Linked DNA regions of Homo sapiens. The protein of the gene in region 2 purifies or fractionates together with the protein of the main gene of each other region. This does not show direct contact. Each region holds a gene or a part of one and is shown on either strand. Other genes may lie near its edges. The genes, in order: PDCD2L, GPBP1L1, TC2N and KANSL2.

The links.
Region 1: the proteins of GPBP1L1 (region 2) and PDCD2L purify together in Homo sapiens (affinity purification with mass spectrometry; 2 studies listed by BioGRID and IntAct, with this or other methods). This does not show direct contact.
Region 3: the proteins of GPBP1L1 (region 2) and TC2N purify together in Homo sapiens (affinity purification with mass spectrometry; 2 studies listed by BioGRID and IntAct, with this or other methods). This does not show direct contact.
Region 4: the proteins of GPBP1L1 (region 2) and KANSL2 purify together in Homo sapiens (affinity purification with mass spectrometry; 2 studies listed by BioGRID and IntAct, with this or other methods). This does not show direct contact.

The regions. Positions count from the first base shown.
Region 1 is NC_000019.10:34,421,235-34,426,811, reverse strand, and holds the end of PDCD2L (programmed cell death protein 2-like), read right to left. Parts: intron 5,294-5,577; coding exon 5,145-5,293; intron 823-5,144; coding exon 692-822; 3' UTR 644-691; downstream 1-643. UniProt on the Homo sapiens protein: Over-expression suppresses AP1, CREB, NFAT, and NF-kB transcriptional activation, and delays cell cycle progression at S phase.
Region 2 is NC_000001.11:45,634,448-45,641,754, forward strand, and holds part of GPBP1L1 (vasculin-like protein 1), read right to left. Parts: intron 5,957-7,307; coding exon 5,763-5,956; intron 1-5,762. UniProt on the Homo sapiens protein: Possible transcription factor.
Region 3 is NC_000014.9:91,864,537-91,872,459, reverse strand, and holds the start of TC2N (tandem C2 domains nuclear protein), read left to right. Parts: upstream 1-4,923; 5' UTR 4,924-5,198; intron 5,199-7,923. Other genes in the region: FBLN5 (fibulin-5 isoform 2 precursor), read left to right, coding at 2,075-2,236.
Region 4 is NC_000012.12:48,678,976-48,687,278, forward strand, and holds the start of KANSL2 (KAT8 regulatory NSL complex subunit 2), read right to left. Parts: upstream 3,264-8,303; 5' UTR 3,212-3,263; intron 2,667-3,211; 5' UTR 2,658-2,666; coding exon 2,407-2,657; intron 859-2,406; coding exon 680-858; intron 176-679; coding exon 61-175; intron 1-60. UniProt on the Homo sapiens protein: Non-catalytic component of the NSL histone acetyltransferase complex, a multiprotein complex that mediates histone H4 acetylation at 'Lys-5'- and 'Lys-8' (H4K5ac and H4K8ac) at transcription start sites and promotes transcription initiation.

The DNA.
Region 1 (5,577 bases), on a different chromosome or scaffold from region 2:
CATTATCCTCATCTACGTAGGCAGAGCATGTCTGAACATGGCTGGGAGTGTTTTTATACTGCTGTTATGGGGCTGAAGGGAAGGGGTTGATCATGTTAAAAATAAAGAAAGGGGAAGACTGGAAGGCAGCTGGATAAAGGGACAGTCTCCAGAACGGAGTAAAGACCCCTTCCTGGGATACTGCAGGAGCAGAAGATGGGAGTGGGTGAGGGCGGGGACCTGGGCTGATGAACATGGGCAGGTCTAAACAGCCAGGGTCACAGAGCAAAAACCTCCAGCAGCTAGAGCAGGTTCAGTGGCTTGATCAGGTGCCAGAAACAGCATAGGAAGCACTGGAGTGCACGTGTCAGAGGTGTACACAAGAGGCTGACCACTGCTCTTGGCTCTTTCGCTGCTCTCCTCCCCCCTAGAATGCCCACCAGAACGGCTGTGCAGACAACACCAGCCCTCTGGACTAGAGAGGAGCTACCTTCCTAGCTGCCACTGTGACAGCTGGCCCTGGACCCTGGAAGGGCAGACCAACCCACAGTCAGGAGGTCCTGGCCCGGCCCCGGCCCCGGCACCAGCACCCAAAGGCAAAAAGGCAACTCAGAAAAACAGAGGTTAATAACTTGTGAGTTAAAATAAGGTACATACAAACATATTTGGATGTAAACATTTGTTTTAATTTATATTAATAAAAGGAAATGCTCTACTTAAACAATAATTCATCTGGGTCTTCTTGTATAATACAAAATTCTTCCATGGGAGTCTGATGATTTGGGGGCCAGCAACTCTTCTCACATGTGTAAACTAGAATTGTTCCAAATTCCACAGAAAGACCTGAAAAATACCACATATTCAGGCTTCCAGCAAAAAGAGTTATGAGACTGATGTTACTAAAAGGAATGATTTTACCTTATAAGCTGAAAAAGTAATTAGGTAAAGCAAAAACAGTGCTTACTGCTTTCAGCTATAACAGAATCACAGTCTATCCTATAATAAGTGAATATTGATAACAAAAAAGCAAAATTAATTTAAAGTGGCAGGAAAATATACTTTAAAAATAAACAAAAATTTCAGCAAGTGTTCATTATAACTGTCTAGCTATCTGATGTTGAAAATCTATATTAATCTACATGGTTCATGTGATATACATAGCTTTTGGCTAGGTGCGGTGGCTCACAACTGTGATCCCTGCACTTTGGGAGGCCGACGGGGAAGGACAGCTTGAGCCCAGCCTAGGCAACATAGTGAGACACCTGTCTCTACAAAAAACAAAACAAACAAACAAACAAACAAAATATATATATATCTCATATAGCCTGGGCAACACAGTGAGACTTTACTAAAAAAAAAAAAATTCACTGGGTGTAACGGTGCACACCTGTAGTCCCAGCTACTCAGAGGAGACTAAGGCAGAAGGATCACTTGAGCCCAGGAGATAAAGGCTGCAATAAGCTATGATTGCACCACCGTACTCTGGCCCGGGTGATAGAGCGAGACCCTGTCTTAAAAAAAAAAAAAAAAAGAAGAGAGAAATATATATCATAGGACACACTACTGCCGAGAAAGGATAAGGATTCAGGCAAAAAATATAAAATAAACCCTAAGAGTTTACAGAAAATTATCAATGAATAAAGCCATTAAAAAAAGATACCAAGAAAACATAAGCAATAAGAACTCCTGATATTAGAACAGAAAAGCAGGAGTCAAGAGGATGACGTAGGCAATGATTTGCAGCAGCAAAGGAGAAATACATTGTTTAAAAATGTATGCATTGGCTGGGCACAGCACATTGGCTCATGCTTGTAATCCCAGCACATTGGGAGGCTGTGGTATATGGATCACCTGAGGTCAGGAGTTCAAGACCAGCCTGGCCAACATGGTGAAACCCCGTCTCTACTAACAATACAAAAAATTAGCTGGGCGTGGTGGTAGGCACCTGTAATCCCAGCTACTTGGGAGGCTGAGGCAGGAGAATTGCTTGAACCTGGGAGGCACAGGTTGCAGTGAGAAGAGATTGTGCCACTGCACTCCAGCCTGGGCAACAGAGTGAGACTCTGTCTCAAAAAAAAAAAAAAAAATGAAAAAATGGCAGAGTTTAACTGGTATATGACATTCCTCTAGGAGCATCTGACTGGTAAGGGAAAAGCGCCTCAAGTGAGCAAGTCTACAACTCCAGTAAACACACTGCGCATGCGGCCTCTCCCAAGTGCTGGAGGGCCACTATGCATGTGGACAGCCCACCCCAAGGGAAGAAACAAGAGAAGTAACCCAAGACCCAGGAAGTATAAAACCCCAAGTCAAAGGTCAAATGGACACTTGAATCTCTCAGGTTGCCTGCTTGGCCCTCTTCCAACTATATTTACTTCCTTTCGTTCTTGCTCTAAAACTTTTTAGTAAGTTTTCACTCCTGCTCTAAAATTTGCTTCGGTCTCTCCTCTGTCTTATGTGCCTCGGTCAAATTCTTTCTTCGGAGGAGGCAAGAACTGAGGTTGCTACAGACCCCTACAGATTCACCGCTGCTAACAGTATTGTGGCAAAAATGTTAGTCACAAAGGGGGAAAAAATCAGACCACCCTCATACCTCTACAAAGCTACATTCCATGCAAAAGACATTTCTATATGAGTGAAAAATCTCAGAGACTAGAATGCCCATAAGCCCTTCCAGAAAAATATATTTCCCAGTGAGACTGAACCACCAAGAAATGACAGGAGGCACCAGGGCAAAGGGCTGGCAGGGCTTTCACTGTCAGAAGACAACACAGGGGTCTATACAAGGTTCTGAAAAGAGAAAGTGGGATTTAAAAATTTTATACATGGGTTGCCCCTCAAATATGAAGCCACATTACCATGCACAATCTGAAGCAAGATACCTCTGAGCCCTCCTTAAAGCTATTACTTGAGAAAATCCAGCTACTGCAAAAAGAATCAAAATAAAACAGGAATAAAAAAGCTCACTCTAAGAGTGGTGATAAACACTGAATCCATTTACACATAGAACTAAGGCTATCCAAATAGCTGTGATAATTATGATACTGGCCAGGCGCGGTGGCTCATGCCTGTAAATCCCAGCACTTTGGGAGGTCGAGGTGGACGGATCACTTGAGGTCAGGAGTTCAAGACCAGCCAACATGGCGAAACCCCGTCTCTATTAAAAATACAACATTAGCAGGGCGTGGTGGTGGGCGCCTGTAATCCCAGCTACTCAAGAGGCTGAGGCAGGAGAATCGCTTGAACCTGGGAGGCAGAGGTTGCAATGAGCCGAGATAGTGCCACTGTACTCCAGGCTGGGCGACAGAGTGAGGCTCCATCTCAAAAAAAAAAAAAAAAAAAAAGATACTGGGTCCAGGCACGGTGGCTCATGCCTATAATCCAAGCACTTTGGGATGCCGAGGCAGGTCGGGAGCTTGAGGTCAGGAGTTTGAGACCAGCCTGGCCAACAACAGTGAAACCTGTTTCTACCAAAAATATAAAAAATTAGCTGGGTGTGGTGGTGGGCACCTGTAATCCCAGCTACTCAGGAGGCTGAGGCAGGAGAATCACTTGAACCTGGGAGGCAGAGGTTGCAGTGAGCCGAGATAGCACCATTGCACTCCAACCTGGGTGAAACTCCGTCTCAAAAAACAAAAAAGATACTGAAATATTTCAAGGTAGGAATAGGGTATAAATTTCCTTATCTACTATGGTAAGGAGCCAGATGCATACTATCTAAAACTGAAACACAGAAAGAATGTTATTTTCTGTTAATAGCAGAAGCACCTTTCAGAAACTTGGGCCTCTTAGGTAAAGAACCTATTACCAAAAGTCCAGGCCAGGCGTGGCAGCTCACGCCTGTAATCCCAGCACTTTGGGAGGCTGAGGTGGGCGGATCACAAGGTCAGGAGATCAACACCATCCTGGCTAACACAGTGAAACCCCGTCTCTACTAAAAATACAAAAAAAAATTAGCTGGGCTTGGTTGCGGGCGCCTGTAGTCCCAGCTCCTTGGGAGGCTGAGGCAGGAGAATGGCATGAACCCGGGAGGCGGAGCTTGCAGTGAGCTGAGATTATGCCACTGCACTCCAGCCTGGGCGACAGAGCAAGACTCCGTCTCAAGAAAAAAGAAGGAAAAAAAAAAAAATCCAGTAACTGCTTCACTTATACTTAACATTCCTTCTGTTAATTTGTACAAAAATTTGTTCTAAGACTTTTAATTACCATATTAGTGAATTTTCCTATTTTAGGAAAATTATTTTCGTCTAGCCATCCATACATTCATCTGACTTGCTATTTGTCTTTATGTCAAAAATGATTGTTGGAATAATGGTTATTAACATTGATAATAGTTTTAATTTCTGGCCAGGCATGGTTCATGCTTGTAATCACTTTGGGAGGCCAAGGCGGGAGGATCGCTTGAGTCTAGGAGTTCGAGACCAGCCTGGGCAACATGACGCAACCTTGTCTCTACAAAAAATACAAAAATTCCATCCTGGCCAACACAGTGAAACCCTATCACTACTAAAAATACAAAAACTAGCCGGGCGTGGTGGCGGGCACCTGTAATCCCAGCTACTAGGGAGGCTGAGGGAGGGGAATTGCTAGACCCCGGGAGCTGGAGGTTGCAGTGAGCCAAGAACGTGCCACTGCACTCCAGCCTGGGCGACAGAGAGAGACTCCATCTCAATAAATAAATCAATCAATAAATATTAAAAAAAAAAAAAAAAGACTGGCTGGATTATAAATTTCTTTTTTTTTTTTTGAGACAGAGTCTCCTCACTCTGTCGCCAGGCTGGAGTAGAGTGGTGCGATCTTGGCTCACTGCAACCTCTACCTCCTGGGTTCAAGCGATTCCCTGCCTCAACCTCCCAAGGAGCTGGGACTACAGGCACGTGCCACCACGCCCAGCTAATTTTTTATATTATAGTAGAGACAGGGTTTCACCACATTGGCCAGGATGGCCTCGATCTCCTGACCTTGTGATCCACCCGCCTTGGCCTCCCAAAGTGCTGGGATTACAGGCATGAGCCACCACACCTGGCCTAAATTTCTTAAAATAATTTTTTAATTCCCAAATTTTCTGTAATTTGCTTATGATATTTTATAAGTAAACAAAAGGTTTTTCATTTATTTAAAAATAATGCCAGAAATCCACAAACTCAAATTAATAAAGGGCTTCTCACCTAAATTAGCACTCTTGAGCATGCTGACCAGTGCTGGCATAAGCTGAAACTCAAATATCCTTTGGCCTCCACACTGGCTGCAGGCTGGGAGCTCGGTGACTTCTGATGTAGGGCAGGTCAAAAAGAGTGGCTCTCCACTCCAGGAATACCTAGGACAAGGAAACAAAGAACCCCGAATCAGAGCCACACAAGTCGCATTCTAGCATCTAAGGCCATGCTTTGCAACCTTTCTTTGTTTCTTGCAGAAATCTCCCAGAGGCCCAAAAACCTAGCACCATGGCTGTAAAGCATAGCAAGATATCTGGAAATCTTGTCAGTGTTCGATTCAAAGTCTCAAAGGCACTAAAGTCAATGTTCAACTGAATCTAGGTAAAGCTGCAACAAAGTCCAGACTCAGCTCCACTGCAGATTAAATGGAATCAGCCCTCCACAT
Region 2 (7,307 bases):
TAATAGTGACTTCCCAAAAACAGGGCTCTAGTTCAATAGTTCAATGAGTTTGGGAGGTGCCGGGGTGAAAAAAGTTCAACAAGGTTCTTCACTGTGCAATTTCTCAAAGCACTTAACTGCACATAAGAATTTGAGAGGCAGTTATGCAGCATTTTCCTAATTTATTGAATCCCAAAACTTTTTTTAGTAGTGTTTGTTAACTTTGGATGTAATCCTGATAGCCCACAAAGTGCATCACAAAATTGCTGCTTTCCAGGAACTCTGATGGCAAAAGGCTAGTTCCAGGCCAGGGTGGCTATTGTAAATGGTTGAACAATCCTGATTTATTTAGTCTGGAGGCCCGTCTACTCAACTCTGCAGGGTCTGGGCCCATTCTGTCACTCTGGCCATAACCCCAAGTATGATAGAAAGCTGGAATACTGAGTTACCACACTGTCCAAGGAGACCAAGGAAGATGTGGCAAGCCAGTGGAGTGGTGCTGAAGCAAATGAAAAACTTCCAACTTATTTTTCCAGAATGAAACACTTAGAACAGAGGACCTCCAGGACAAAGGGGCCTGAGTGAAATGGATTCCCTTCCTGGTTGCTTTCTTGATTGATGGGTATTAAAAGAAGACACAATAATAGCTTTAGGAAAGGAATTAACTTTACTATCTACCATGTACCAGGTGATGGTCAGTCTGTTTTATTTAATTCTTAAACCAATCAGGAATAATAATTGTTACGCTGACTTTTAATAGAGGATGACACTGACAATAAGGAAGTTCCACAATTTGTTCAAGGTTATTCAGCTAGTAAATGAAACCACCTTTCCACTATCCCAAAATGCCTCCACAAAGAACAAGCAAGCAGATAAGAGAAACGATGACCCAACCAGAATGAAGATTAATTTTTTTCTTGCATTGATAAAAATCTAAAGATGGTTGCTTGTGTCAGGTTAACTCTCAAAGATGATTTGTGGCTTCCCCTGAGTTGTAGTCACCAGATGTCCTGTCTTTAAAACAATGTCACTCCAGAGCACAGAAACACTTGGGTTTCTGCCACAGTAGTACAAAAGATTTACTCTGTTACATAAAACAGAATATCTATGTCTGTGCCAATTTTATTTCAACTTAATTTTCAGTAACTTAAACCCTATGAGATAGCTAGACTACCCCCTGGAAAAATCATTATGCCCCACACCTGTTTTTATTAGATGATTATACATGTAAAAGTCCATTAAAGTGAATTGTATAACCAGTTTTTTTTGTTGTTGTTTTTTAAATGTTCTCTCCTTTTCCTCTAAATTCTGAATCAACCCTAGCTTGCTCCACTTCAGAATCTTCTTCTACTGGACTAAAAATTCTAAAATCACTGGGCTCAAACTTTCTCCCACCTCCTCTGCCGTTTGCCCCTCAAGTTCAAAGGAATGTCCTCCTCCCTTTCTAGCACTTTCTTCTCTTTCCTTTTGGGTTTATCAAATATGCTAATCCACCTTATTGAAATTAGGAGAAAAAGGCCAGACTTCTTATTTTCCCTCAATCTTATATACCACCTTCTTATTGCCAAACTTCTGAGTAAGTCAGTATACATTATCTTTCACTCGTTCATTAACTATTTACTGCTTAGTTCCCTGCAATACTCACCTCTATCCCCAATTTTAGTAAAACTCTTTCATAAATAACCAAAACTTTCATCCTTATATTACAAAGGCCAGCTCTAAAAAACCTGTCTTCTTTGGGAAATGCGATATTGCTCATTATGAATATTTTCTGAACCTGTCCCTTTTTCCCTTCTTGATTTCCTGATGCTTCACTCTCTCAGTTCTCTCTTTACCTCTTGAATTCCCTTCTTTTCAATGGATGTAAGTATACTAGCATTCCAGACTCAGTACTCTTCTTCTTCTGTAGTCTGTTGAACTAGGTGAATTTCATTAGAAAAAGCAATTACTTATAACTGTTTCAGTTTAAAATGTTAAAATTGTGTAGATAATATGTAAAATTGCATCTCTACCTACTTTAACTTCTCTCCTGTTCTTTTTATACAGGCCTCCATCAAGTCTGACTTCCCCATTCACTTTCACATACCAGCCATACCGAACCAATATGGTTCCTTTACTCCAAACATACCATATTCTGCATCCATTTTCTGGTTAACAACAGGTTCCCTCTGCCGAGAATGCCCTACCTACTTGCTTTCTAATGAACTACTGTACTACTGTTTTTAAACGTCCACTTACTGGGTAATTAGGATGTTTCAAAAACTATATTCCAAGTACTTGCTCCAATTTACTGTCAAGAAGAGTTTAGCAAAATCTAATAACTTGCTTAAGATCACAACCCTAGAAAGTGTCACAAAGATTTCAACTTAGTTAAGTTTGAGTCAAAAGATTAATTTCTCAACTTCCTCTTCTATTCTTCATCCTTCAAGACAGGAGGCATTCTGGAACAGTAGAAAGAGCCCTGGTTTTGAAGTCAGACCTGAGTTAAAAGCCTGACTCTATCACTTATTAGCTATGTAACCCCACAGTGTGTATTCTCTATATCCCAGGATTAAAAGAGTAAATGCTTTAATATGTGTAAAAGCCCTAACCAAGCAACATAGTAAGATGTCAACAAATGGCAGTTCTCTTTCCTTTATCATGTATTTGAATCCCAGTTATCCGTAAAGACTTTGATGACCCTCCCCAGGCAGAGAAGCACAATTTTTTTCAAATAACTCTTTCTTCACTAGACAGTAAACTCTTTGCGATTACAGGCCAAGTATTATTTTGTGTCTCTAGTGACACAGTGTTTACTACTCAGATACTCAATAATTATTGCTAATGTTTAGATAAAATGAATGGATAAATCAACATCTGCTTATTAGTTATCTTACCTCTTCCTCCCTCTAACATCTCATATCCTACGTACCCAGAACCACAATCACATTTCCTGAAACCTGACCTTCCATATTTACCCCAATTTTCCCAGGAAGAATGTCTTCTGTTTTCTTTTGCTGCCTAATTTGCCTCCCACTATCTGCCATTACCACCTCTGCCAACTGTTACCATCTCTGCCATTCTCTGCCAACTGTTACCATCCTCTTCAAGCTTCAAGAGCAGCAGCCTTTATATTAGTTTTCCAATCTTCATTCTACCCCTGACTCACAACAGGGCTAAAGTGATCTTAAGTTTTGTATCATAATTTTTATCCTTGTAAAAATTTTTTTACCTTTTGATTTATGAGATCCTTGAGGACACAATGACATTTTCTTACTCATTTTTATATTTTCTGTAGTCCTGCAGAATGCTTGCAGACATCTTAAAGTAACACTTAAGAAAGTCTTTATAAACTCTCAAGAAATGGGACAAACATAAGTTGTGCTGGCAGGTTGGTAACAATAGCTACCATTTATTGGCACTTATTATATGCCAGTTTTAGGTATTTCATAAAATTTTCTCATTTACTCCTCACAAAAAAAAGGGGGGCATTGTTATGTCTATTTTATAGAAGAAGAAACTGAGACTGGGAAGTGAAGAAACTTGCTCAAGGACGTAAGATGAAGAAGGTGTAAGGTGAAATCTGTCTATTCCATAGCCCGGCAGTTAACTTCCATGCTCAGCTGTTTCTTTGTAATAGTTGCTCTCTTCACTTGAATTCACATTCTTTCCCTTCTACATCAGAGGAAAATAAACCCTAAGTATCCTAAACCCTTTTCAAAGATAACTGTACTTGTCAATTAGTTTTATTCCCACATATTTCTTCTTGGCCCATAATCCTTTAATGATCTCTTCCAAGTACAGTTCAAGTTGCTTCCAGTGGCTTCTTCCAACAGACTTCCTCATCCATTCACTTATCTTTTCCACTGCCTATATTCTATCTAGTTCCTTTTACTGTCAAGGTTAAAAGGTGCCACTACCTCCACATATTTCCAAAAGCCCTTGAAATACTGTTTCAGCCCTACTTTATTCCCTAAAAACATCAACTCAAAAGTCTCCTAAGATAATCACTAAGGTTTTTTCTCAGTTATTTTCCTCAACTTGTTACCCCTGTTGCTATTGCAAACTCACCCACTTGTATTTCTGTGAGAGTTTACCATTTTTTTCTGAACTAGTTTCTCAGTACTATCCCATTCTTTACTCCTCTTCTATCCTCTTCTCTTCTTCCATCCTCTTCTCTTGTATATCTAATCTACCTTGAAAACTCCAATCATTATCACTAGGATAGTAACTCCCAGTGAATTTATTCAGAGGGTGAGCACGGTGGCTCACGTCTGTAATCCTAGCACTTTGTGAGGTCAAGGTGGGAGGATGGCTTGAGCCCAGAAGTTCGAGACCAGCCTGGGCAATATAGTGAGACCCCAATCACTATTTTAAATAAATAGATGAAAGAAAAGAAAGAAAATTATTCACAGAGAGGATGGCATGCGCCAGAAGAATAATTTCTTCCCGGGTAAGAGAAAAAAGGGGCAATAAGATGCAAAAGATGGATTAGAGTTTGGCTATGAGAAACTTCACAGACCTCTGCTTACTCTGCACACTGACTATAGGACTAGCACACTATGACCCATGGGCCAAATCTTGACCAAGGCATTTCTGTATGATTCATGAGCTCATACTTATTTTTACATTTTTAAAGAGCTGGAAAAAAAAAAGGCAATGTGTAACAAAAATCATATATATCAAGCAAAGCCTAAAATATTTATTATCTGGCCCTTCATAGAAAAAAATTACCAATCCCTGCCATACATTGTTTGGAGCCACTGAAGGAATTCAGGAAGGCATGTGATATATTCAATTGTTTTTGGAATGATCATTCTGGCAGTTCTGTAGGACACAGAGACATGAGAAAATAGAAAGGTATACTAGAACAGTAAATGTGAGAAGACAAAGTCCTGAACAAGGACAGCATAGAGAGAATAACAGGGACTTTGTAATTCCTTGGCTGAGGAGAATGACTAAGGAGGAAGAGAAGAGAAGTAGCCAAGATAGTCAAGCTGAGTGATTAGGATGTTGTTGCTATTACAGAAAACCAGAGGGGCCAGGTGTGGTGGCTCACGCCCATAATCTCAGCGCTCTGGGAGGCTGAGGCAGGAGGATTCCTTGAGGCCAGGAGATAGAGACCAGCCTGGGCAACAAAATGAGATTCTGTCTCTACAAAAAATAATTAAAAAAAAAAAAAAAAAAATGGCTGGGCGTGGCGGCTCACGCCTGTAATCCCAGCACCTTGGGAGGCCGAGGCGGGCGGATCACGAGGTCAGGAGATTGAGACCATCCTGGCTAACAACGGTGAAACCCCGTCTCTACTAAAAATACAAAAAAACACCGAGCCGGGTGTGGTGGCGGGCGCCTGTAGTCCCAGCTACTCGGGAGGCTGAGGAAGAATGGTGTGAACCCAGGAGGTGGAGCTTGCAGTGAGCTGAGATCGTGCCACTGCACTCCAGCCTGGGTGACAGAGCGAGGCTCCATCTCAAAAAAACAAAACAAAACAAAAAATAAAATAAATAAAAAAAATAGCCGGGCATAATGGCGTGCCCCTGTAGTTTCAGCTACTTGGGAGGCTGAGGTCACACTGAGCCATGATTGTGCCACTGCATTCCAGCCTGGGTGACAGAGTGAGACCTTGTCTCAAAAAAATAAAGAAAAAGAAAAAAAAAAAAGCAAAGAAAGCTGTATACATATAACAGGTACTGAAAGAATATCTGGTGACTGATGCGGCAAGAAAAAACAAATTTATTAATTTTTTCCTGATTTATTCCCAAACCTCTCTTGTATAAGGTTCTTGCCCTGATTCTAAATCATACCTTGGAAGGAGGTGGTACAGGCTTAGGAACCAGGTTCTTATAGACACTTGGAACCACGGATGACAATTTGTTCCCATTTGCATGGTGAGATCCTGGTGAGGTGAATGCAGCAGAGAAGGCAGCAGCAGGATCCTCTTTGGAAACTTTTTTGATAACTAGCATCTTGGAGGGTTGCTTGGCACTAGGCGGGTTTTCTGTGAAGTACAAGAGTGGAGAGACAACAGAATGTCAAACCTGTTGTGTAACATGAAGCATAGTTTATACAAAGGCCTTAGTCAACAAAACAGCTGACAGTTGAGACAGAGGGATTAAACATTCCCTGGTATGCACTTAATAGATACTCTCAAAAGTGAGACTACTCAGGAACTGTACAAAAAAATGCAGCATATGAGGAACTGGATACTAAATTTATAAATCAGCCAGGAAGTCCAAAGATGTTAGCAGTCCTTCAGGGGCACAATATGTCTGATGGACAGTGTGATCAGTTAAGCATGAACCCAACAAGAATAAATCCAAGCGCCAGGCACTGTGGCTCATGCCTGTAATCTCAGCACTTGGAGGTGCTGAGGTGGGCAGATCACTTGAGTCCCAAGAGTTCGAGACCAGCCTGGGCTGGCAAACCCTGTGGCAAATCCCCATCTTTACAAAAAATACAAACATTAGCCAGGCATGGTGGTGCACACCTGTGGTCCCAGCTACTTAGGAGGCTGAGGCGGGAGAATCACTTGAGCCCAGGTCGAGGCTGCAGCGAGCCATGACTGTGCCACTGCACTCCAGCATGGATGACAAAGTCAGACCCTAACTCAAAAAAACAAAAACAAAACAAAAAAAAACACCTAAAAGTAGCAGCTCCTGTCAGCATGAGAATAGAGAGATGAGGTAATCAGGGATTGGAGTCTGCCATGAAACCCTCTGATGAGGCAAACTGGAGCAAAGGTATACACCATTAGCAAAGAGGAGAAGGTACATCGATCAATCTTAATCCTACAATACTGGATTCTAAACCCATCATTTAGATATGTTAAAGACTTCCCATGTTCTTGGCTATCAACATGTCTAATGAAGAAACCAGGAGAGTCCAATTTGTAAATGCCAAAGATCCCAATGCCACAGATGAGGTTTGGTTTGAAATACAGATTCCTATCGCACCACTGCACTCTAGCCTGGGCGACAGAGTGAGATTCTGTCTCAAAAAACAAAACAAAACAAAACAAAAAACCACAAACATATATATACACACACATACACATAAACACACACACACACACACACACACACGAATATTTAAACATACATATATATGAATGTTTAAGAATATATTGTTATGGGCTGGGTATGGTGGCTCACGCCTGTAATCTCAGCACTTTGAGAGGCCGAGGCAGGCGGATGATGAGGTCAAGAGATCGAGACCATCGTGGCCAACATGGTGAAACCCCATCTCTACTAAATAACAAAAATTAGCCGGGCGTGGTGGCATAGGCCTGTATTCCCAGCTACTTAGGAGGCTGAGGCAGGAGAAAAGCTTGAATCCGGGAGGCTGAGGTT
Region 3 (7,923 bases), on a different chromosome or scaffold from region 2:
CTTGCAGCTTCTGGGCACAGGGCTGGGCTCTGCAGTGTATGGGAAGTGATTGTCCAGCCCATCCCTTTTCTTCTTCACACTGTTTCCTCTAACAGTGCCAATATCTGTCCCTTGCACTGACCGCGAGCATCTCTCATTAGGTGGGTGCTAGGAAGAAGTGAAACACACATCAGCCTCTTCTGATACCTGCTGTGCAGTGAAAAAAGCCTGGGGCTTGGGGTCAGAAATACCTGAATGGAAGCCCTTGGTTCTGCCCAAGACTAGCTGGGTAACCCTAAGCAATTATTTAACCTCATGGGACCTCAGTTTGCTTACTTATAAAACGGGGAAGTAATGAGTCATACCTTTCATACAGCACTTAGACAAGGACAGCCAGGGCCCCCCCACCTGGGTCCTGTGCTTTTAGATCAATATTTCTCAATACTTAATGTGCACACAAAGCCCTGGGGATTGTGTTAAGCCACAGATTCTGGCTCAGTAGATCCTAGCCCTGAGATTCTGCATTTATAAGAAGCTCCCTGGTGATGCCCATGCTGCTGGTCCAGGGACCACACTTTGAGTGGCAAGGCCTTTCAGGGTTTTATGAGAATTTTTTTTTTTTTTTTTAGCTGGAGTCTCGCCGTTGTCCAGGGTGGAGTATAGTGGTGCGATCTCTATTCACTGCAACCTCTGCCCCCCAGGTTCAAGCAATTCTTGTGCCTCAGCCTCCCAAGTAGCTGGGATTACAGGCACCTGCCAACATGCCCTGCTAATTTTTCTAGTTTTAGTAGAGATGGGGTTTCACCATATCAGCCAGGCTGGTCTCCAACTCCTGGCCTCAAGTGATCCGCCCACCTCGGCCTCCCAAATGCTGGGATTACAGTTGTGAGCCATGGTGCCTGGCCATTTTATGAGGATTAAATAAGCAGATGTACATAAACATGGTTAGAAGAGTGCCTCACACATGATGGGTGCTCAGTTGATGTCATTCCTCTCTGCCTTCCTCCTTGAAAGTTTTAGAAAAAGACTCAGTGGAGGAGAGAGTTCACGCGAAATTATTAGGACCACAGTGATCAGGTTACAGAATGGTGAAGCTGGAGATGACTCTAGGGTGCCTAGAGGGGGGTTCTTAAATTCCACCTTTCCCAGGCATCACCTAAAAATATACTGACATAGAAAATCTTGGAATGGGCCCCTGGAATTGTTAGTTTAACAAAAAAAGTTCCAGTAGCCTTTGATGCCTTTTTTTTTTTTTTTTTAAATTACTGATCTGGTCCAAACCCTCATTTTATTTTTCCTCAAAAACGTTTTTTAAAACTTTTATTCCACTTTCAAGAGTACATGTGCATGTTGGTTGTATAGATAAATTACTGTGTCGTAGGAGTTTGGTGTATATATGATGTCATCACCCAGGTAATAAGCATAGTACCCAGTAGGTAGTTTTTCAATCCCCTCCCTCCTCCTGCCTCCCACCCTGAAGCAGGCCCTGGTGCCTGTTTTTCCCTTCTTTGTGTCCATGTGTATGTACTCAATGCCAAACCCTCATTTGAGAGATGAGCCCCAGAGGGGTGAAGTGACAGCCCTAAGCCATGCAGAAGTTTCAATCAATGATTCGTTCATCATTCAATATATGTTTTCTGAACACCTTCTGTGTTCAAGGCACCATGCTGGCTTCTAGGGGGACTCAGTGGTGAAAAGCCTGACCCCAGTACCTGTTCTTACAGAACTCATAGCCTAGTGGGAGCCTAGATATCAGACACGGATCAGGTAGACAGTATGGACAATCATACATGGTCATAAATGCTTTCCATCCTGTACAAAGTAAAGGCTGCAGCGTCAGAGGTCGCAGGGGGACCTGACTTAGATTGGGGAACCAGAGAAGGCTCCTCTTAGGAAGTGACCTTTCAGATGAGACCTGAAGGGTTTGCAGAAAAGAACCAGGTGGAGAGTGGGCAAAGCCAGGGAAAGAGCATGGCACAGTTGAGGCACCGAGGGGGTGCCAGTTTGACTGACGGAGGCAAGGGAGCGCCCAGGTGGGGCTGCAGGGCCACCATGCAGGCCTTTTCTCACTGGTGTTCCCCGGTTCTGTCCATAGCAAACGGGCCCCATCAGTGCCACCCTGGTGATGACACGCCCCATCAAAGGGCCCCGGGAAATCCAGCTGGACTTGGAAATGATCACTGTCAACACTGTCATCAACTTCAGAGGCAGCTCCGTGATCCGACTGCGGATATATGTGTCGCAGTACCCATTCTGAGCCTCGGGCTGGAGCCTCCGACGCTGCCTCTCATTGGCACCAAGGGACAGGAGAAGAGAGGAAATAACAGAGAGAATGAGAGCGACACAGACGTTAGGCATTTCCTGCTGAACGTTTCCCCGAAGAGTCAGCCCCGACTTCCTGACTCTCACCTGTACTATTGCAGACCTGTCACCCTGCAGGACTTGCCACCCCCAGTTCCTATGACACAGTTATCAAAAAGTATTATCATTGCTCCCCTGATAGAAGATTGTTGGTGAATTTTCAAGGCCTTCAGTTTATTTCCACTATTTTCAAAGAAAATAGATTAGGTTTGCGGGGGTCTGAGTCTATGTTCAAAGACTGTGAACAGCTTGCTGTCACTTCTTCACCTCTTCCACTCCTTCTCTCACTGTGTTACTGCTTTGCAAAGACCCGGGAGCTGGCGGGGAACCCTGGGAGTAGCTAGTTTGCTTTTTGCGTACACAGAGAAGGCTATGTAAACAAACCACAGCAGGATCGAAGGGTTTTTAGAGAATGTGTTTCAAAACCATGCCTGGTATTTTCAACCATAAAAGAAGTTTCAGTTGTCCTTAAATTTGTATAACGGTTTAATTCTGTCTTGTTCATTTTGAGTATTTTTAAAAAATATGTCGTAGAATTCCTTCGAAAGGCCTTCAGACACATGCTATGTTCTGTCTTCCCAAACCCAGTCTCCTCTCCATTTTAGCCCAGTGTTTTCTTTGAGGACCCCTTAATCTTGCTTTCTTTAGAATTTTTACCCAATTGGATTGGAATGCAGAGGTCTCCAAACTGATTAAATATTTGAAGAGAGCTTGTGTTTGGTTCATTTTGACATCATAGACGAGTCAGCCTTTGGGGTTCTAGTTCTGTTTAAACCTGTTTATTGTGCGCTGGCTTAGAAAGCTCTCCAGAGAGCTAGGGCATTATCTGTGACTCTGGCAAATTGATGGGAGGGGGGCGGTGGGGCAGAGAAATAGGGGTCGTGGGGAAGTTAGGGGGAGGCATCATCCCTGAGTCCTGTTTCATCTGATTAGAAAACAACCAACAATCCTTCTCTTACGTAGATTATTTCCGGTGCTCCTGCAGAACAGGAATGTATTCAAGTTACTTTAAACCAGTGGCCTTCAACCCTGGCTGCATAGACGGATAACCAGTAGAACTTTGGAGGAAAGATTGATTCCCCGGGACATGCCCCCAGACACTCTGATGTCATTGGGCTTAGGTAGGGCCCGGCCATCAGGATTTTTGAAAACTTGACTATGTAGCCAGAGTTGAGAATGTATTGTTATAAACCCTAGAAAGAGAGGTGGACAGATGGGGCTGGAGCCCTAGCTGCCTTGCCCTCAATGTCTTTTCTGCTCATTGTAGGATACATTATTCTTTTCCTGGTCAGGGCCTCTGGACATCCTTCAAGTCTTAGAACCCTGTGCAGGGGCCAAGAGAGTCAACATTGCAAGTCACAGGAGAACAGGTTGGGATGGCTGTCTTTATGTGCCATCCCAGGAATCAACCCAAGGCTTCAGGAAAAAAGTGCACTCCCTGATAGCTGAGGTGGAGTCTACAGATCCATCTGAGGGTGCTCCCATCCTACCTGTTGGTGAGGTATTCATTAAGGACCCCCACAGTGCCTATCAGGAGTTGTGTCCTGGACCCCTAGTCTTAGTAGGCATTCCACAGATCCTTGTGATATGGACAGGAGACAGGGAAATACTGGGTAGAAGAGGGTGGTTCCCTGGCAAAGGCCCCACCCTCAAGCCTGGGTACCCATGGCCCTAAATGAGGACAGCCATTCCTGTTTTCATCCCTAAAAAGTTGCCTTTTGGCCTGCCATGTCCCCTATCCTGTACCCATATAAACCCTGAACCCCAGGCTCCAGGCTCCAGAAGCAGACGGGGAGACAAGAAGATGAGCAGACATGAATGGCAGAAAAGCACGGCAAAGAAGGAGAGAAGAGAAGGAACATTGGGAGGAATTCGACTGGAGACGATCTGAAAACTGGCCACTGGATGGCCAAACTCCAGGGGAAGATCATCTTCCCACTCCATCCCCTGTCCAGCTCCCCATCCATCCTACTTAGAGCCACCTCCACCACTCAATAAAACCCCTGCATTCATCCTGCAAATCCATGTGTGACCTGATCCCTCCGGGATGCTGGACAAGAGCTCGGGATACAGGAAACTGTCACACTGGCCCTCTGCCCTGGCAAAAAGGGAGAGGGTCCACTAAGCTGGTTAACGCTTAAGCTGTCCACGGATGGCAAGGCTGAAAGACTGCACTGTTTCAGTGCCTACTCGGGCTTTGGAAGTCACAGACACCGACCCCGGGATGCTGTCATGGGGCTGGGGCCCAAAAGTGCTCACCCTGGTTCCTGCACCTGCCTGTCTGCGTGCTCCCCTTCCCATAAGGGGTTTTAGCTTGGGGTGGCTGAAGAGAGAGCCACACCCCTGTTGCACATCCTGTGAGGGGGCCAGGGAATTCTCCTGTTCCACTTAGTAGTATCTTAGGCCTTCAGTGGAAGGAAACAGCATGTTCCACGCCCTGTAGCATCCAAGAAGCTGCAAGTCCTCCCTCCTCACCCCAAGAGCATTTCTCACACCCACACCACACACCTCACTTTGCTGTTGGCTGTGGTTATTTTTTTCTCTAACTAAGCACATCTAAACCATGCCTAGTTGTGGTTCTTCAGTCAGGGTCAAGTGGTGTTAGCAATCACATCAGCACCAAATGGCTCAGGATGCTCTGGTTTCAAAGCTTATAAAACAGAGGGTGATTCCCTTGGGACTCACTCAGCTCGGCTCCGAAAAGCAAAGGCCAGAAGGCAGCAGTGAGCCTGGGTCCCTGCTGTGTAGGGAGACTCAGGGGCTGGGAAGAAGGATGGAATCAGAAATGCTGAAGGTTTACGTGAGCTTTGCACCGAGCGCCTCCGAACCACTGCCTCTGGGCTCAACAGAACACAGGGGTAAGTCTCCATGAACTTCTCAAAAAGAAAACTGGGAAGCTTTCTGTCTTGATGATTTGAGGACCCACTGGTTTCAGAGGTGCCACATTTGGAACCAGATCCGAGTCTTTAAGGTTTGTGTTTTATTTGTTCATGTCAAAATGTGGCTTCCTGCTTCTAAGAAAAGAAACTCAGGCTCATAAAAGCAGCCTCCAAGGGCTTCTTGGACCTCAAATTGCGCTTTCAAAATGTGGTCTGATGGGTTCAGTGTAAATGCACCAGAGGCATGTGGGATCCATTTACCTTAAAATACACTTGGGCCTAAAAATTAAGAGAAAAACAGTCCAGGGCAAAGTGTATACTGCAAAGTCAAGCTCCAAACATTTGGGAAACAGTTCTAGAGGCTGCTGGAACCCCAAATGCTACTTGCTTTACCTACCCCTTGGGAATCATCAAATGTTATTTTTTGTACAAGACTGGGGATGAGCCTGCTCTCTGATCCCAGTGCTGTGCTCTGCTGTGCAGTTCTAATGGGGCAGGCTGTTTCCTGGACCCTGAGATCTCCAGGCTCCCTGTGCCTATTCCTTGTCAGCTTTGCCCCATCCAGGAGCTGGGCTGAGCTTGTCAAGTGACCTCTGCTTTGTACCACTCCATCAGGTCCTGAAGAATGAAGGGTACCAAGGTGGAAGGGGCGCAGGATTAAGAGTAGGGACGCCTGCAAAAGCTCTCGTGTTACCACCTCATCTTCCAACTTTCATGTGGGTGAAAACGTTCATCCTAAATAATTGCTTCTAATTCTGAAGTTTTGTGATTCCTTGAAATGTACTTTGGGGATGACAGCCAGCATTTCCATTTCACTGCAATTTCAGAGTTTTGCAGTGGTTTGCCAATCATAACACTTTCTAATTGGCACAAAATCCACCTACCTGTTGCCTCTCAGGCTTGGGTAACATACTTCAGACACTTTCTTAGGTAAGTCTTGGCCCTTGGGGTGTTATTTGCCCAGATGGTAAAAACATTTAAGTAGGTCTGATTATTTCATTTTCAGTGGTTTCAACGCATTTTTGTGGCCTGGGTGGTTACTGTAATGTGCCCAAGTTGTTCATTCTGAGCCAACGGGGTCACCCACAGAGAGAAGACTTGACAAAGGAACTCTCCTCTACTCCCCTCTTGCCAGATGAAATATTGTTTGTAAAAGGTCTTTGTCTTGAGAGGATCACATACTTTGGTTAAGAATCCACTTTGGTTAAGCCGGTTGCTGGATTCAGAGACATGAACAGGATAGACAGTCCACCGATAACTTTATAATAACACCTTTTTAATAACACCTTTAATAACTTTTTAATAACTTTAAAAGTTATTAAAACTTTATAAAAAGTTAATCTAAAACTTTAATAACTTTTTAATAACACCTTTAGCCAGGGGTTTATGCAGCATACACGACAAAACTGGAATATAATGTGGTAGGTGCAGTAGCAGGGTCCACAAAATTATTTTAGTTAGATTTTAAAAATTATTAAGACATCTGTTTTATACAAGAAAAATTCTTATGAAAATTTATAGACATGTGTTTGAAATTTAGAATAAGTTGCCTCTGCTTAGAATTATTAAGTATTTTGAAAGGAAACACTAATAAATGCTAGATAAACTTTTTCTTTTTGATACAATTTGTGTTTACTTTAAATGCAATATTTTTTTATCTGAAAAAAAACGTGAGCACTTAGCAAATCTCTTCATTATTTTGGAATTGGCCAATGCTTATAAACTACAAACAAATATACAGATTGTTCCTTGTGCTGATATTTTTGTTTTCAAATTTCTTAGTCCTGTTACTTAACAAATGGCTGATATCTTTGTTGGAATCCCTGAACATAGCTAAAAGATGTTTTTTTAAAAAAAAAAAAAAAAAAAAACCAAGAGGCTCCAAGACAAAGGAGTGCACAGAGGCAAAATTTATCACTTTGGTAGCTTTTGCGGGGATGAAAGCCTCCAGTTAGAATGTTTGACTTACTAATGGTTCTTAATAATGAATCTTAGCCAGCAGCCATCAGAGAAATAAATCATTAAAGTGAGAAAATAGGTGTCAACACAGGAGTGATCTACTGAATTGCCATTTTGGTGTTCTTTCAGAGGGGAACTGCATGTTGACAGGCAGTGACTTTTTCAGGAATTTGGGATATTCTTGAGCAATAATGTAAAGATGAAGGCAGGGGGCTGGGCACAGGGGCTCATGCCTGTAATCTGGGAGGCCGAAGTGGGCAGATCACTTGAGGCCAGGAGTTCAAGACCAGCCTGGTCGACATGGTGAAACCCGTCTCTACTAAAAATACAAAAATTAGGTGGGAGTGGTGGCACACACCTATAATCCCAGCTACTCAGAGACTGAGGCAGGAGAATTGCTTGAACCCAGGAGGCAGAGGTTGCAGTGAGCTGAGATTGCACCATTGCATTTCAGCCTGGGCAACAGAGCGAGAGTCTGTCTCAAAAAAAAAAAAAAAAAAAAAAGATGAAGGCAGGGTAAATTGTACACACATACAAATACAGTGCCATTATGATACCTGTTTATTAGGATTTGAGAAATTAATTAACATTGATTTAAGGCCACAGAGTCATTGGATCACTTGATTCTGTTTAAAAGAAGTTTTCGTTTGGGTAGGATTGTTTTGGTTTCAACCTGTTCCTTTTTTCTAAGTCTTCGTTTCCAACCTTCTACTCAGAATGAATTTGACATTGCAAAACTGGCTTG
Region 4 (8,303 bases), on a different chromosome or scaffold from region 2:
CAGCACTACATTCCACATACTAACTACATTTCAAATGCCTTATGTGGAGTTACAACTTACTTTAGGGGATCTTCTTGATCACTGTCTATGCTATCAGCTTCACTGTCAGGGTCACCTCTCCATGTCTGATCCACAGTAATGGGTTCCTGCTCCCCATCACTCCAGCTGTCTTCATCTGAGGCAAGGAAGGGAGAGCAGCCATTAAGACTTCCCACCTCTGTAACTCCACCACACAAAACTAGATTACTTTTATCAACCCAAACCTTGAAATTTTAAAAACAAAACAAAAAAAAAAACACTTAGTACAAAGGTACTGGCAAATAAAAACGCTTTAAGAAAATACAACCCAAGTAAGATTACTTACAACATAAATGAGTAAACCATGCCCTCTCAAACAGAAAAATCAACTTAAAATTACTGTTTCCTGAAATTACCTAACAAAGCTGCTGAGCATTAAAAAAGCAATGAAAGAAATGGTCACCAACTCAGGAAAGTAAACCTAGGCAAACACAACTTCAAATTCAAAAGAACTGGTAAACAACAAAGCAATCCCAGCATTCTCACCAAATTCCTGATGAATTAACAATATTGCCAAATAGATCAAGGCATTGTGCTAACCCAAAATAGTTCCCCCTTAACTTTCTTCCTCCTTTTTCATTCCAGGAGAGAAGGTCCTTACCTAGTATTCGGCTGGCTTCACTGCGACTACTTTCTGGAGTCTGAGACCCCAGCTCTGTCTTAGCATATGAGCTCAGCTGGCACAGGAGTGTTTCACCCACAGGCCCTGGGTTGGTCTTCTTCATTTGAGCATGAAGTGCCAGGGCATTCCTACGGACATGTTCAGCACAGAAGGACACCCTGAAGAGACAAAACATTAATATTTTATAAGTTCCTTCTTGAAAGCGTTCAATAATGTTCACAGTCCCTAATCTTTAAATCATTTTTAGGGAATTAAAATGACTATTACATTCATTTCTAAAAATGCAAGTCAGAGGAATTTAACTGGCCCAAGGTCAACTCATTTGACTTTATTAAAGGGAAATAACAGGACGGATGAAGTGGTTCACCCTTGTAATCCCAGCACTTTGGGAGGCTGAGGCAAGGGATTGGGTCTTGCTCTGTTGCCCAGGCTAAAGTGCAGTGGTGCAATCATAGTTCACTGTAGCCTTAAACTGCTTGGTTCAAGCGATCCTCCTGCCTCAGCCTCAAAGTAGCTAGAACTATAGGCATGCACCACTGTGCCCAGCAAATTTTTTTTAGTTTTTTGTAGAAACGAAGTCTATGTTGCCAAGTCTGGTCTGGAACTCCCAGGCTCAAGTGATCCTCCCACCTCAGCCTCCCAAGTAGTGGGGACTACATGTCCACGCCACTATGCCCAGCGAGTTTTTTAATCTTCTGTAGAGACGGGGTCTCACTGTATTGCCTGGGTTGGTCTCCAACTCCTGGCCTCAAGTGATCCTCCTCCCGTGGCCTCCCAAAGTGCTGGGATTACAGGCATGAGCCACTGCGACCAGCCAGGGACACAATTTTAAAACTATAAGATACGTAAAAAATTATCTAGTCAGGTTATGTTTTTGCATGGATACCTTTGCATACATGATGAAAACTATGAAGCCTCTTACAGAAGAATACACACATATATAACTTTGCATGTTATTTAACAAAATTCATGGACAGCCAAATAGAGCCACACACCCCTCCATTAAGAAGAATTTTAGGGGCCAGGTGCGGTGGCTCACTCCTGTAATCCCAACACTCTGGGAGGCCGAGGCGGATGGATCACCTGAGGTCAGCAGTTCAAAACAAGCCTGGCCAACATGGTGAAACCCCGTCTCTACTAAAAAGTACAAAAATTAGCCGGGCATAGTGGCGCACGCCTTAAGTCCCAACTACTTAGGAGGCAGGAGAATCGCTTGAACCTGGAAGGAGGAGGTTGCAGTGAGCCGAGATCTCCACTGCACTCCAGCCTGGGGAATAAAGCAAGAATCTGTGCGCCGCCCCCCCGCCAAAAAATTAACTTTAGGGCCGGGCGCGGTCGCTCACGCCTGTAATCCCAGCACTCTGGGAGGCCGAGATGGGAGGATACCTTGAGGCCAGGAGTTTGAGACCGGCCTGGTCAAAATAGCAAGACCCCATCTCTCTTAAAAAAAAAAAAAAAAAAAAAAAGACTAATTTAGAATATGCCTTTATTTTACAGATAAGGGAAAAGAACCAAAGAGGTGAACTAAGTAATCCAACTCAAGGGTCTTTCCAGTCTTCACCGTTTTTTCAGTTTTCCAAGGATACAACCATAACCCCAAATTTACAAGGACAAAATCTCAAACGCGGCAGCTATGCTGAAGCCCGCATCATATCACATACCCCCTCGCTTTAAGAAAAACGACATATATATCTATACATATATACCCATCTTTCTTCTCTGGCTTTGGGGCAGCATTGGGACATCTTTTTCCATTCTTCGTCGATATATAACTACACTGCTTGAAGGGTGCATTCTTGTCTTCAAGGATATGCTTAATGCAAAACTCCTGCCCCTCCAGACGAGGGTGAGAGCATGGACGATGAGTGAATGCACAAGACAGAGGTTCCTGAGACCTGGGCACTGGAGTGATCCTCCCCCGATTGGTTGGCAAGACGTGAATCCGAATCCTGTTCATAACCAAAACCTGCGGGGTCAAACGAAAGACCAAAAAGCCCTTACCCTTCCCGAAAATTCCTGCTCCACACAGATCGCGCGGACAGTTTCCAAAGGACATGCAGAAGTCGTCCCCGTAAGGTACGCTCCGTAAGTCCCCGCCGCCCTCCCCAAGTCTCCACAGGCATCTGTGGCTTTGCCTCCCTTTAGCGTGTCCCTCCATGCCCGGCCCCACCCCGAACCACACCACGCTGAATGTATCTTCAGGACTCGCACAGCTGCAGCACGAAGGGAAGCGACAACACCAGCCCCACGCGGCGGCCACGCCGCCTCCCCGCACGCCGCCTTTGTCCCGGCCTGCCTCAGAGCGCACGACTGGGCCTGGCCTCGGAAGCCTATGCGAGCGCCATTTTGTCCTACGGCTCCAGTCACCGGAGATCCTGGCTCCTGGAAGCCTGCAGGAAGGAGACTGACTCTGACACTGCTTTGAGGCGGAGTAGCAGCTCTGAGCTGACAAAAAGAGCGAAATAGCAGCCCAACCGCAAGAGCTTAGAGGAAAGAGCACCGCCATCTTACCTCAGGAGCTGCGCTGCGCCGCACTCTGCCGCGCCGCTCGCCCTTCTCTAGTGGCGCCAGCGGCTCTCAGATCGGCCTCGCCCCTTTCCGGACTCCTGGCTACTCATTGGCTACCGCTCGTATGACAGGATGTCGCCATTGGCCGAGACCAACTACCTATCGTGTCTGGGAGGGCGGAGCGCTGAGAAAATGCGAGGTTGGGGTGGCTAAGACAGACTGTCTGTCAGCAACTCCGCCCGGAGGAGAGTGAGCCGGGGAAGGGGGCGGAGAGCGGGCTGCGGGGCGGGTTGCCAGCTAATATTTTTCCACCTTGCAGCGTGGCTCGTTTTCCGGCTACTTTTGGACCCTCAGTCTGTGGTCCTAGGCTGCTGTTCCCTCACCACTGTACACAGCTAGTATAAAATCAGACAGACAGGCCGGGCGCGGTGGCTCACGCCTGTAATCCCAACACTTTGGGAGGCTGAGGCTGGCAGATCACCTGAGGTCGGGAGCTCGAGTCCAGCCTGAGCAACATGGAGAAACGCCGTCTCTACTAAAAATACAAAATTAGCCGGGCGTGGTGGTGCACGCCTGTAATTCCAGCTACTCGGGAGGCTGAGACAGGAGAATCTCTTGAACCTGGGAGGCGGAGATTGCGGTGAGCCGATATCGCGCCATTGCACTCCAGCCTGGGCAACAAGAGCGAAACTCCGTCTCAAAAAAATATATAAATAAAAAATAAATCAGACAGAGGCTGGAGGATCACTGTTTACACATAAAAAGTCTTTAGCTTTCTTTTGTGAACAGTTCAATACATGTACTGAACATTTGGTATAGAGAACACTGAGAAACATTTTTTGGGTGTTTACTGATTCTGGGAATTACATGTATAAAGTCATTGAATTTTTCAAAGCAACCCTAAGAGGTACAGGTTAGTATTATGTCCATTTTACAGATAAGAGGACTGAGGAACAGAATGGGACCATAGCTATTAAATGGGAAAGGAAGACGAATTTGAACCCAGCCCGCATTCTTTATCCCTTATTGCCTCTTATATAGTAAAGAGCATTGGACTGAGAATAAGGAAATATTTGTTCTAGTTTAGGGCTGCTTCTCATAACTGTGTGCCCTGTCTTTAAAATTCCATGCTAAATAATGCAGGTATCATAAAAATGACAGACACAATACCAATCATACCATCCTTTAAGGATTTTTAGTTTAAAAGCATCTTTCTGTCATCTCCACCACTTGTAGAAATGATTCCTAGCTTTCTTCCCATAACCCTTCTAGACATTTTTTGCTTTCCAGCATCTCTTATCTCCTCACTGTCAGTTTAAGAAAGATGTTTTATCCATGCCTAACGAGCAAGTGAGCATGAGTCCCAGTGGAAGTGAACATAAAGATTCCACAGCCCTCAAGAAAAACACTAAGGCTGGGCGTCATGGTTCACCACTGTAATCCCAGCACTTTGAAAAGCTGAGGTGGGAAGATCACCTGAGCTCAGGAGTTCGATCCCAGCCTGGGCAATATGGAGACACCTCATCTCAAATAAATAAATAAATAAATAAATAAATAAATAAATAAATACACTATAGGACCGATAAATTATTAAAAAAAAAAAAAAACCTTGGGGGTTGTGCTGTTTCCAGAGACTAGAGCAGCCCTAGAAGAAGGCCTGAAATTCATTCATTCAACGAATATTTATTGAGCACCTAAGTGCCAGGAGAGAACAAGGAAGATAACCCTGCTCTCTTGGAGTGAACATTCTAGGATAGCTTTGGATTATGGATGCAATACAAACATAATATTAATAACAATGATTTATATACATAAGCAAACAGACCAACCCTCAGGAGTACGAAAAAAGATGTTTTGTTATAAACACCCTATAATTAAAAAACAGCCAGAGGCAGTCATGTCACAGAAAATTTGGGAATCCGAATCTGCAACCAAATGTAGTAATATCAAAAAGCAACATTAAAACTACTGTAGTGAACAATATGAAGAGACACAGGAATAGATGGGGAAGAAACAAAAGACTTTCTTTCAATGAATTTACTGAAGGTCTTAGTTGAAAAAAGAATCCTTCTTGTAAGTCCAAGACAGACAAAACATTACTATTTAGAACCACTTCTTTTTTTTTTTTTTTTTTTTAGCGGGAGTCTTGCTCTGTCGCCCCGGCTGGCTGGAGTGCAGTGGCGCGCGATCTCGGCTCACTGCAACCTCCGCCTCCTGGGTTCAAGGGATTCTTCTTCCTCAGCCTACCCCCCAAGTAACTGGGACAACAGGTGTGCGCCACCATGCTCGGCTAATTTTTTTATATTCTTAATAGAGACAGGGTTTCACCATATTGACCAGGCTGGTCTCCAACTCCTGACCTCGTGATCTGCCCACCTCAGGCTCCCAAAGTGCTGGGATTACAGGCGTGAGCCACCATGCCCGGCCTAGAACCACTTCTAAGTGAAAGGAGGGAGCAGATATTAAGAGCTCAAGATGTCAGCAAATTCTTTGTTCTGTTTAACAAAGTAGATGGCTTTTTTTTTTTTTTTGAGATGGAGTCTTGCTCTGTTGCCCAGGCTGGAGGTAGATGGTTATTTTTAATTCACTGAACACTTTGTAGCTATTGAAGAGGTTAAAGTAGACCAGAAGCTATTTGTAAATAGGGATTAGGAAACTAGAGTTTGGGGGGCTAATCCTAGAGAAAAGTGAGAAAAAAGATGAAAACGGCTGGGCGCAGTGGCTCACGCCTATAACCACAGCACTTTGAGAGGCCGAGGCGGGTGGATCACCTGAGGCGAGGAGTTCAAGACCAGCTTGGCCAACATGGTAAAACCCCATCTCTACTAAAAGTACAAAAACTAGCCAGGTGTGGTGGCATGTGCCTTAATCCCAGCTACTTGGGAGGCTGAGCAGGAGAATCATTTGAACCCAGGAGGCAGAGGGTGCAGTGAGCCAAGATTGTGCCACTGTACTCCAGCCTGGGTGACAGAGCAAGACTGTCTCCAAAAAAAAAAAAAAAAAGTTATCAAAGACCTTCACCTTGCTAATTCTAATGAAGTTTTCAGGCATCATCTTATTAGACCACTTTGCAATGTCTAACACACTTGGCCACTCCTCCTCCTTAGAACTCTATACTCTTTCTAGATCTCCATACTCTTCCTAGTTTCCCATCTACATCAGTCACCCACTCTCTGTCTCGTTTCTCTTTTCCCCAATTCTAAACACTGAACATTTCTATTTTCTACTACTACTTCCTTAGTTATCTCACTCTGTTTCATCCCATTCATAAGCTGTTATCTCCCAAATGCATATATCCAGCCTGGATCCCTCCTTTGAACTTGACTCTCTAGTCATCTGTCCAGTAGGCATCTCCACTTGGATGTCTAATTGGCATTTCAAATTTAATGTTAAAGCCAACCTCCCGCTACTCCCGTAGTCATCTCTACCTGAGTATATGACAACCCCAACCTTCCAGTTGGTCAGGACAAACACTGGGAGTTATCCTTCACTTCCTTCTCTTCCACCTCATAGCAAATCCTATTAGCTCCATCTTCAAGCTGTATCACTTCTCGGCTGAGCAAGGTGGTTCACACCTGTAATCCCAGCACTTTGGGAGGCTGAGGCGGGTGGATCACCTGAGGTCAGGAGCTCAAGATCAGCCTGGCCAACATGGTGAAACCCTGTGTCTACTAAAAATACAAAATTAGCCGGGTGTGGTGGCACATGCCTGTAATCCCAGCTACTTGGGAGGCTGAGGCAGGAGAATCGCTTGAACCTGAGAGGCGGAGGTTGCAGTGAGCTGAGATCACGCCATTCCATTCCAGCCTGGGCAACAAGAGCAAAACTCCATCTCAAAGAAAAAAAAAAAAGATACATCACTTCTCATTACCTTGGGTACTTCCAACCTGTCCAAGCCACCCTCATCTCTTACCTAAATTGTGAGAGCTCCTTGCCCTTGACTCCTATGATCTATTTTCAACACAGCAGCCCAAATGAACATTTTAAAACCTAAGTTGGATGTCATTTCCCTTCTCAAAACTTTCCAATAGCGTCTGTTCCATTCACTGTCTTTATACAAGGTCCTGTTGTATCTGGCTTTCTATTGCCTCTCTAACCTCATATCCTGCTACTCTCCTCTCTCCAATACCCCCTCCCCACTCATTCCTATACCAGCTACACTGGTTTCCTTGCTATTTCTCAAACATACCAGCATATTCTCACCTCAGAACCTTTGATGTCTCACGTTTCCTGGAATGATCTTATCCTAGTTATTCCCATGACTTGCTGTCACCTCCTTCAGGTCTTCCCTAAAGGTCATGAAGCTTCTGGTCATGAAGCCTTCCCTAGCCACCTTTTTTCCAATTCCCACAGCCCTAGTTACCTAAACACACACACGTGCTCACACACACACATGCACACACACATCCCTATCCCCTATTCCCTGTTTTAGTCTCCAAAGTGCTTATTATGGCCAGGTGTGGTGGCTCACACCTATAATCCCAACAAGAGTGAAGGAGGCCCAGACGGGCAGATCGCTTAAGCCCAGGAGTTCAAGACCAGACTGGGCAACATAGGGTGACCCCATCTCTAAAAAAATTAGCCAGGCGTGGTGGTGCACACCTGTAGTCCCAGTTACTCAGGAGATGGGAGGATCACTTGAGCCTAGGGAGGTCAAGGATGCAGTGAGCTGTTATCTCACCACTGCACTCTGGCCTGGGAGACAGTGAGACTTCGTCTCAAAAAAAAAAATTTTTTTTAAGTGCTTATCACCACCTAACATACTATGTTTTACTTATTTGTAAATTCTTTGAAGGCAGAATGTTTGTTTACTGCCATATTCCCATTAGTACAGTCCACAGCACTTAGTTTTTTTTTTTTTAACTTTTTTTTCCCGAGACTGGGTATAGATCTATAGCCCAGCAGGAGTGCAGTGGTCAATCATGGCTCACTGCAGCCTCCAATTGCTGGGCTCAAACAATCCTCCCTCCTCAGCCTCCCTAGTAGCTGGGACTATACACTACTGTGCCTGGCTAATTTGTATGTCTGTGTGCAGAGATGGGGTCTCACTTTGTTGCTCAGGTTGGTCTTGAACTCCTGGCCTCAAGCAATCCTC